2 linked regions of the Homo sapiens genome follow. The protein of the gene in region 2 purifies or fractionates together with the protein of the main gene of each other region. This does not show direct contact. Each region holds a gene or a part of one and is shown on either strand. Other genes may lie near its edges.

What was found. The genes of interacting proteins can lie anywhere in the genome.
Region 1: the proteins of DRC3 (region 2) and OFD1 purify together in Homo sapiens (affinity purification with mass spectrometry; one large-scale study listed by BioGRID and IntAct). This does not show direct contact.

What each region holds. Positions count from the first base shown.
Region 1 is NC_000023.11:13,758,748-13,762,247, reverse strand, and holds part of OFD1 (centriole and centriolar satellite protein OFD1), read right to left. Parts: intron 2,134-3,500; coding exon 1,528-2,133; intron 1,164-1,527; coding exon 1,037-1,163; intron 1-1,036. UniProt on the Homo sapiens protein: Component of the centrioles controlling mother and daughter centrioles length. Recruits to the centriole IFT88 and centriole distal appendage-specific proteins including CEP164. Involved in the biogenesis of the cilium, a centriole-associated function.
Region 2 is NC_000017.11:17,989,862-17,993,361, reverse strand, and holds part of DRC3 (dynein regulatory complex subunit 3), read right to left. Parts: intron 598-3,500; coding exon 451-597; coding exon of another isoform or gene 394-450; intron 354-393; exon of another isoform or gene 273-353; intron 1-272. UniProt on the Homo sapiens protein: Component of the nexin-dynein regulatory complex (N-DRC) a key regulator of ciliary/flagellar motility which maintains the alignment and integrity of the distal axoneme and regulates microtubule sliding in motile axonemes.

The sequences.
Region 1 (3,500 bases), on a different chromosome or scaffold from region 2:
CAAAATTCCCTTTCTCTTTGTCTTGTAAATAGCTCCACCTCACCACCACCACTAGGCATTGTTCTCAGCAATTAATACCTGTTTAATCAGTTACTCCTTGTAACTATTTCATGCTGTGAAGTAGGTACTACAGTTGTTAATAAAGAATAATGTTGTACTCTGAATGCTATTCCTAGGAAATAACCATAAAACATTTCTGAAAAAAAATTCTGCACACTATCAGCATGAACCAGATGAAGATGCAACACCACAACCTTGAGTGAGCAAAGCGCCCTAACTCAGCATATGTGTGTGTCTTATCCTTCCTTTTGGCTTATCACAAAAAAAAAAAAAAAAAAAAAAAGCTTTAGGACTACGACAGGCCCATGTGGCAGAGAACTACATTAACATGCAGATGCCCGAGATCGAGCCTGGAGCTAAGGAGTCAGTTCCCTCTGCTGTGGGGCCCAGGTATGGGTAGGAGTCTGCTCATGACTCAAATCATAGCCTGGCTGACCCAGTGGACTAGTTTCTAAAAACATCCACTCCTTCCTGTTTCAACAATCATACACCAGAGCCTGCTACCACGTTTGAATTTATTTCAATGATATGCAGGTCAGAACCTTATCTGTTTATATTTCAATGCCAAAATATTTTAAAAATGACTTTTTAATGATGTGTAAAATTGTTCCAACTTTATAAATAACCTCCATTTGTTTGCTTTCAGATTTTGTACATTTGTTTTTTATCTTAATAAACCAAATCTATTCACAGAACTAGGAAGATGCTTATTAATACCAGATTGCATGGTCCATATATCAAGTTTAGCAAATAAGCATTATCCACTTATTTGCTAAAAGCAATCTTTTTCCCTCCAGGTAATTTAGATGATTCTCAAAGATGACATATCATTTTGCAATCTGATTGCAAATTCTATACTGCCACATGATCTATAATAATTATCTCAAAAAAAAAAAATCCCAGTAAAACAAGTGAAGGCTGACAGAGCAAGTAACATTATTCAGCTGAAGCTAATCAATCAGAACGTTATACTTACCCCACTTTCTGCTCCGGAGGGCTGGAGACAGGAGGGATGGAGAGGCTGTGCCTAGACTCAGTGGGTGATGGTAGGGGCATTCTGTCAGGACAAGGACTGGGGGAAGCAATGTGTGATCTGCCCAGACCTAAGGTGCAGAAAGAACCAAGGCAAGAATATTACCAATTGCACGGAGAAGATACCAACGTGGTTTCTAAAGAGCTCTACTAGTTTGAAAATAAACTGTTATCCTCACAAATAGCCAATTATGATGCATAAGATCCAGAAAACTAATGATTCAAGCACCTAAATTAAATTGCAGTGGCAATAATAAAATGCAGGAAACCAACAGGCAGCAAAGGCAAGGCAACTATCACTCTCTAAACAGCTCTGTGTGCCAAACACTAGACCTTGCCACTCTGGCCCGCTGACCCTCACGGCAACCCTGTGTCGTGGGCAGGGTGGCTACCCAACTCCAGAGCACCCCGCAACCCTTTGTGCGGGTGGCTTACCTTCCAGATACATTTCACTTTCGAGGCTTCTTTTTGCTTTTGGAAGGGGTGTGGAAGAGAGGCGTCTGGAGGAAGTGCCCCCGCGGAGCCTCGAGGCTGCACTGCCTGTCAGTGCTTCCACGACGTCATTCCTTTCTTCAAGTGTGCCCACTTGAGGCTGCTCAGAGACAACTCTGTCCTCTCCAAAAATATGTCTTTCCGGGGAACTGGAAGTAATGTTTTTGAAGGCTTCCAGCAAGTGCAGAGATGGTGGGCTCTTTGCTGCTAGTGGGCTTTTGGCAGAGTTTTTAATGACTCTCCGATGGTAACTTCTGAAAGCCTTTTCCAAGCGTTCGGCCTCTTGCTGAAGCTCTTTGACCCTTGCCTTAGTATTGGCTACAAACTCAAGGTCAGAATCAGGGGAACTACCCTCCACCCATGCAGTTGGATAATTTGTGATCCTTGATGCAACCATACGTGCTAGAACGTTTTCCTGTTTAAAAGGATTGTTCAAGAAATCCCCACTTATCTCACCATTGCAAGGCACCACATTGCCATTTATTAATCCATTGACAGAACGATCGATCACAGACTGCTTTGGATTGCAGTACACTTCATTCTCTAGGGCTGCAGGGTACAAAAAGCCAATTTCAGAAGTAAGTGGACAAGGCAGAGAAGAAAATATACTTGAGAATATTATTTTTTTGAAAAATGGAAGAGAGTAATAAGGACAAACTTGCACTATACAGTTTCTGAAGCCATGGTAACGATAACCACTAACATTTACTGAGAGCTTATTGTACCAGCTACAGCTTTGTATGTCTTTTGTAACATGATATAATTTCAGAATCCATTATGCACAATTTTGAAAGCCACAAGGCTCTGAGAACTGAAAATTTATTCATAATTTATTTGGTGGCAAAGCCCAACCAGACTTGAACTCATTTGGTTGAAAAGTTTGACCTGAACTGATGTAAACCCATTTATAATCTTTATTTATCCCAGCATGAATATTCATACAGTTGACTGCAAAATAATTAATGTGCTTTACTATAGGATGCTGTTCAGAACTCCCAGGGCTATTGCGAAATCCACAGCATATGGCCCGAGTTTCATATAAGGAAGTGAGGACCTGCATTCACAACAACACTGTGGTCAAGAAACTCTCACTGCTCCCATTTTACAGATGGGGGGACTAAAGCTTACTGAGGCTGGGTCACACGGTTAGCAAGTCTAAGAGCTACTGGGCTTTCCTAATGCAAAGCCAGTGCACCTGCCCCTCTCTCCTGCAATGCCTCCCCGTGATGCTACAAGAAAGAAGCTTGCCCTCGGCAACACATGCATGCGAAAGAGTTCTATCCTCATTCAACTATTTTTTATTGATAGGAGACTGCTATGATTTCAGCTGTGAGAAGTTTCACAAACAGAACTGAAAGAAAATGAGGAACAGAAAAAAGCAGAAACGAGTAGAGATAAAAATAAAACAAGTGCTGGTAGAAGAGAGCAAGGAGCTGATGAGGAAACAATGCAGGTGGGAACAAGGAAGGCTCAGACCCAGTTGAACTGGTAACACATACGTACTTTCTTTGAACTTGAAAGCAACTGAAGAATAAAGTATCTGAACTTTAATATCCTTCTTACGAAGTAGGAAGGGGCAGAGATGCATCCACAGTGAAGACACAATAATAAAATGATACCAATAACCATTTCCTGAGTGTCTTTTATGTCCCAGGCACTGGACTGAAACCCATTTCATCTTTTTCATCATGGCTCAGTAGGTATTATTATCCCCATTACAAATGAGGAGACTGAGGCCCAAGGAAGTTAAAGTAACATGCCCAAGGTCAAACAACTTCAAAACGGGTCCAAAAGAAGAACAGTTCTGATTCTGAAGGCAATATTCTTTTTGCTAAACCACCCTGCTTGTCCTGTATATTTATATATCTATCAAGGAATCCGTAAAACTACTGAATTGGTGTTAACATTGGGGTAAC
Region 2 (3,500 bases):
GGTGTGTGCCACCACACCTGGCTAATTTTGGTAGTTTCTGTAGAGATGGGGTCTCCCTATGTTGCCCAGGCTGGTCTTGAACTCCTTGGCTCAAGCGATCCTCCCGCCTCAGCCTCTCAAAGTGCTGGGATTACAGGCGTGAGCCACTGCTCCCAGCCCTCCTCAGCTTCTTCATCTGGAAAACTAGACAGTGCAGGATGGCTGTGAGGTGGCCCTGGGACAGTGTGTGGAAGAGGCCTGGCCCCTGGGAACGCACACAAAACAGTACTTACAAGGGTGCTGCTGGAATCACTCTGACAGAGTCAGGTAAAGGGATTAGGAAGAGGGAGCTGCCCTTTCTCTCCTAGTTGTGGGCAGGGGAAGCTACTCTTCAATGCCCCTTTTCCAAGAAACCTGGGGGCTTGAGGAATCTGTCTCACAGGGCTGGGAGACTGAGAGGGAGACACTTGCTGTGTGGTCATCAATGCGCCGGTAGTCCAGGTACATGAGGTCAGGAAGGTAGGCACAGATGAACATCTTGTAATCCTCTGCCTCAGAGATAGGGTTCCTAGAGAGGCTGAGCGTCCGCAGGCACTTGAACCGCCGGAGGTAGATGATCTGGGGAGAAAAAGGGAGAAAGGCCCATTTTCTTGGCTGCCACAGAGTTGAAAACACAGCTGCACCTCCCTCCTCAGTACTCTTTCAGAGTCAGCCTGGCCACAGCACCATCAGCACTGGGGTGGGGTGACAGGCAGTGTGCAGGCGTGGGGGTGTTCCAGGCTGGGAAGCAGTACCGAGACCTTCTGTCAGAAATGGGCTTTTCAAAGAACCAGCAGACCATGGTTCAGGTCTGCTGAACCATGTGGTGAGACCTTGAACAAGTTACCCAACATCTGTGAGCTTCAACGTCCACATCTGTTAAACGGGTATAAGGATATCATGTGTGTTACAGGTGTTATAAAGACCAAGTGAAATAAGCTATAAAAAGCACTGGAAGAGTGCCTGACACCTATTCGGTAATGGGCGTTTTAGTTGCTGTTACCAGCATAGGCATACCCTTCTATTTATTTTTTAAAAATCTTTTAAATTTAACTTAATTTTATTTTTTGAGATGGAGTCTTGCTCTGTTGCCCAGGCTGGAGTGCAGAGGTGCGATCTTGGCTCACTGCAACCTCTGCCTCCCGGGTTCAAGTGATTCTCGTGCCTCAGCCTCCCGAGTAGCTGGGATTACAGGCCTGCACCACCACACCTGGCTAATTTTTGTGTTTGTAGTAGAGATGGGATTTTGCCATGTTGCCCAGGCTGGTCTCAAACTCCTAGGCTCAAGCGATCCACCAGCCTTGGCCTCCCAAAGGGTTGGAATTACAGGCGTGAGCCACCGCGCCCGGCCCTATTTTGTTTTTAAGTAGGGATGGGGTCTTGCTGTGTTGACCAGGCTGGTCTCGAGCTCCTGGTCACAATAAATCCTCCCACCTCAGCCTCCCAAAGTGCTGGGATTACAGGCGTGAGCCACTGCACCTGGCCAGGCATGCCTTTGTAGATTGTAAAGCCCCATGGAAGGTACAAATATCTTAAATTAAATGGGACCCAACTTATGGCTAACCTTGGATTCCCTGGATAACAGCTAGGGGAACATTCCAGTAACTTTATTTATTCTCCCTACACTCTATTTTTAGTAAAATGAGGAAAATGTTAACCAGGTAGTTAATATTAGATTGGTGCAAAAGTAACTGTGGTTTTTGCCATTAAAAGTACTGGCAAAAAAGTATTTTAAAAAAGCAATACTTTGGCCGGGTACAAGGCTCACGCCTGTAATCCCAACACTATGGGAGGCTGAGGCAGGTGGATCTTGAGGTCAGGAGATGGAGACCATCCTGGCTAACATGGTGAAACCCCGTCTCTACTAAAAATACAAAAAAAAAAAATTAGCCGGGCATGGTGGCAGGCGCCTATAGTCCCAGCTACTTGGGAGGCTGAGGCAGGAGAATCGCTTGAACCCAAGAGGCGGAGGTTGCAGTGAGCCGAGATTGCACCACTGCACTACAGCCTGGGTGACAGGGCGAGACTCCTTCTCAAAAAAAAAAAAAAAAAAAAAAAAGCAATACTTCATTGGATAGCATCTAGACACTGTACTATGCAAAAGATAGAAAAAAAAATCTAGCATGCTTTTCTGAGTGAATTTCTTTCAGTCATTTATTAGTCACCTAGCAGCAAACACTATTAGTCACCTAGCAGCAAACACTATTAGTCACCTAGCAGGCCTCCGGCATGTGCTAAATTATGAAGATACAGTGGGGAACAAGGCCTGTGGGGTCCCTGCCCTTATGGCAAGAGCACATATTTTAGGAGTGGGGGAAAAATGTTTTCTTTTTAATTTATTATTATTTTTTTTAGATGGAGTTTTGCTCTTGTCACCCAGGCTGAAGTGCAGTGGCGCGATCTCGGCTCACTGCAACCTCCACCTCCCAGGTTCAAGCGATTCTTCTGTCTCAGCCTCTGGAGTAGCTGGGATTACAGGCACCCGCCACCACACCCGGCTCATTTTTATATTTTTAGTAGAGACGGGTTTCGCCATGTTGGCCAAGCTTATCTCGAATTCCTGACCTCAAGTGAGTCGCCCACCTTGGCCTCCCAAAGTGCTGGGATTACAGGTGTGAACCACCGGGCCCGGCCAAATGTTTTAAAAAGTAAATAAAACCATTATGCTTTGAGTTAAGTGCTGTAAGGAACATCAAGATGGCACCCTGAGAGAAAATAACAGGGAGGCCTCTTTCAGTTAGGAGATTCAGAGGTCTCTCTGGGGAGGTGACATTTAATCTGAGACCTGAGGGAGCCAGCCGCAGAAGAGCAGAGGAGAGCACATTCCTGGAAGCCAAGACAGCACAGGCAAGGGCCCCAGGCAGCAAAGAACTTGGCACATGCCAGGCACTGAGCAAAGGCCAGGGTGGCTGCAGAATGCGGGGAGAGGGCTGGGAAGAAGTTGAGATGGGAGTAGAGACAAGGTCAGGGGCTGATTCATGCAAGACCATGCATGGGTTTGGATGCTGCCTGTCTGGCATGCAGGGCAAACTTCTGAGACTCCACCACCTCTGTGGCTTGACCCAACGGAACTGCTAGTGACAACTCGGTGCTTCCCACCCCAGGCTGTTCATGTAAGCCCAGCCTGGCCGTCACCCAGCCATGATGTTAGGCTGAGGGTCAGTGTAGACCCTGAGGGGGCTTGATCAGACTAAAGGGCCACTGTCGGAAGGAGAGTTCTTGCTCTCTCCATCCTGCTAGATGCAGACAAGGAAGCCCGTGTCCTTGACTGCAACCATTAAGAGAATCAAGCTCTGGGGAGATGCTGAGGATGGCAGAGCCCAGAGGCAGAAGGAACTCACGTCCTTGAAGCTCTGCTGATAAGCACCCCTTCCTTGCAGTGCCAATTATCACGCCACTAAATGCCCTTGTTGTTTGCCGCAGGGGCTCAGCTTACCTCCGGCTTCAGCTGTAGCCATGAGAGACCTTAGCTGGCAGCGTCC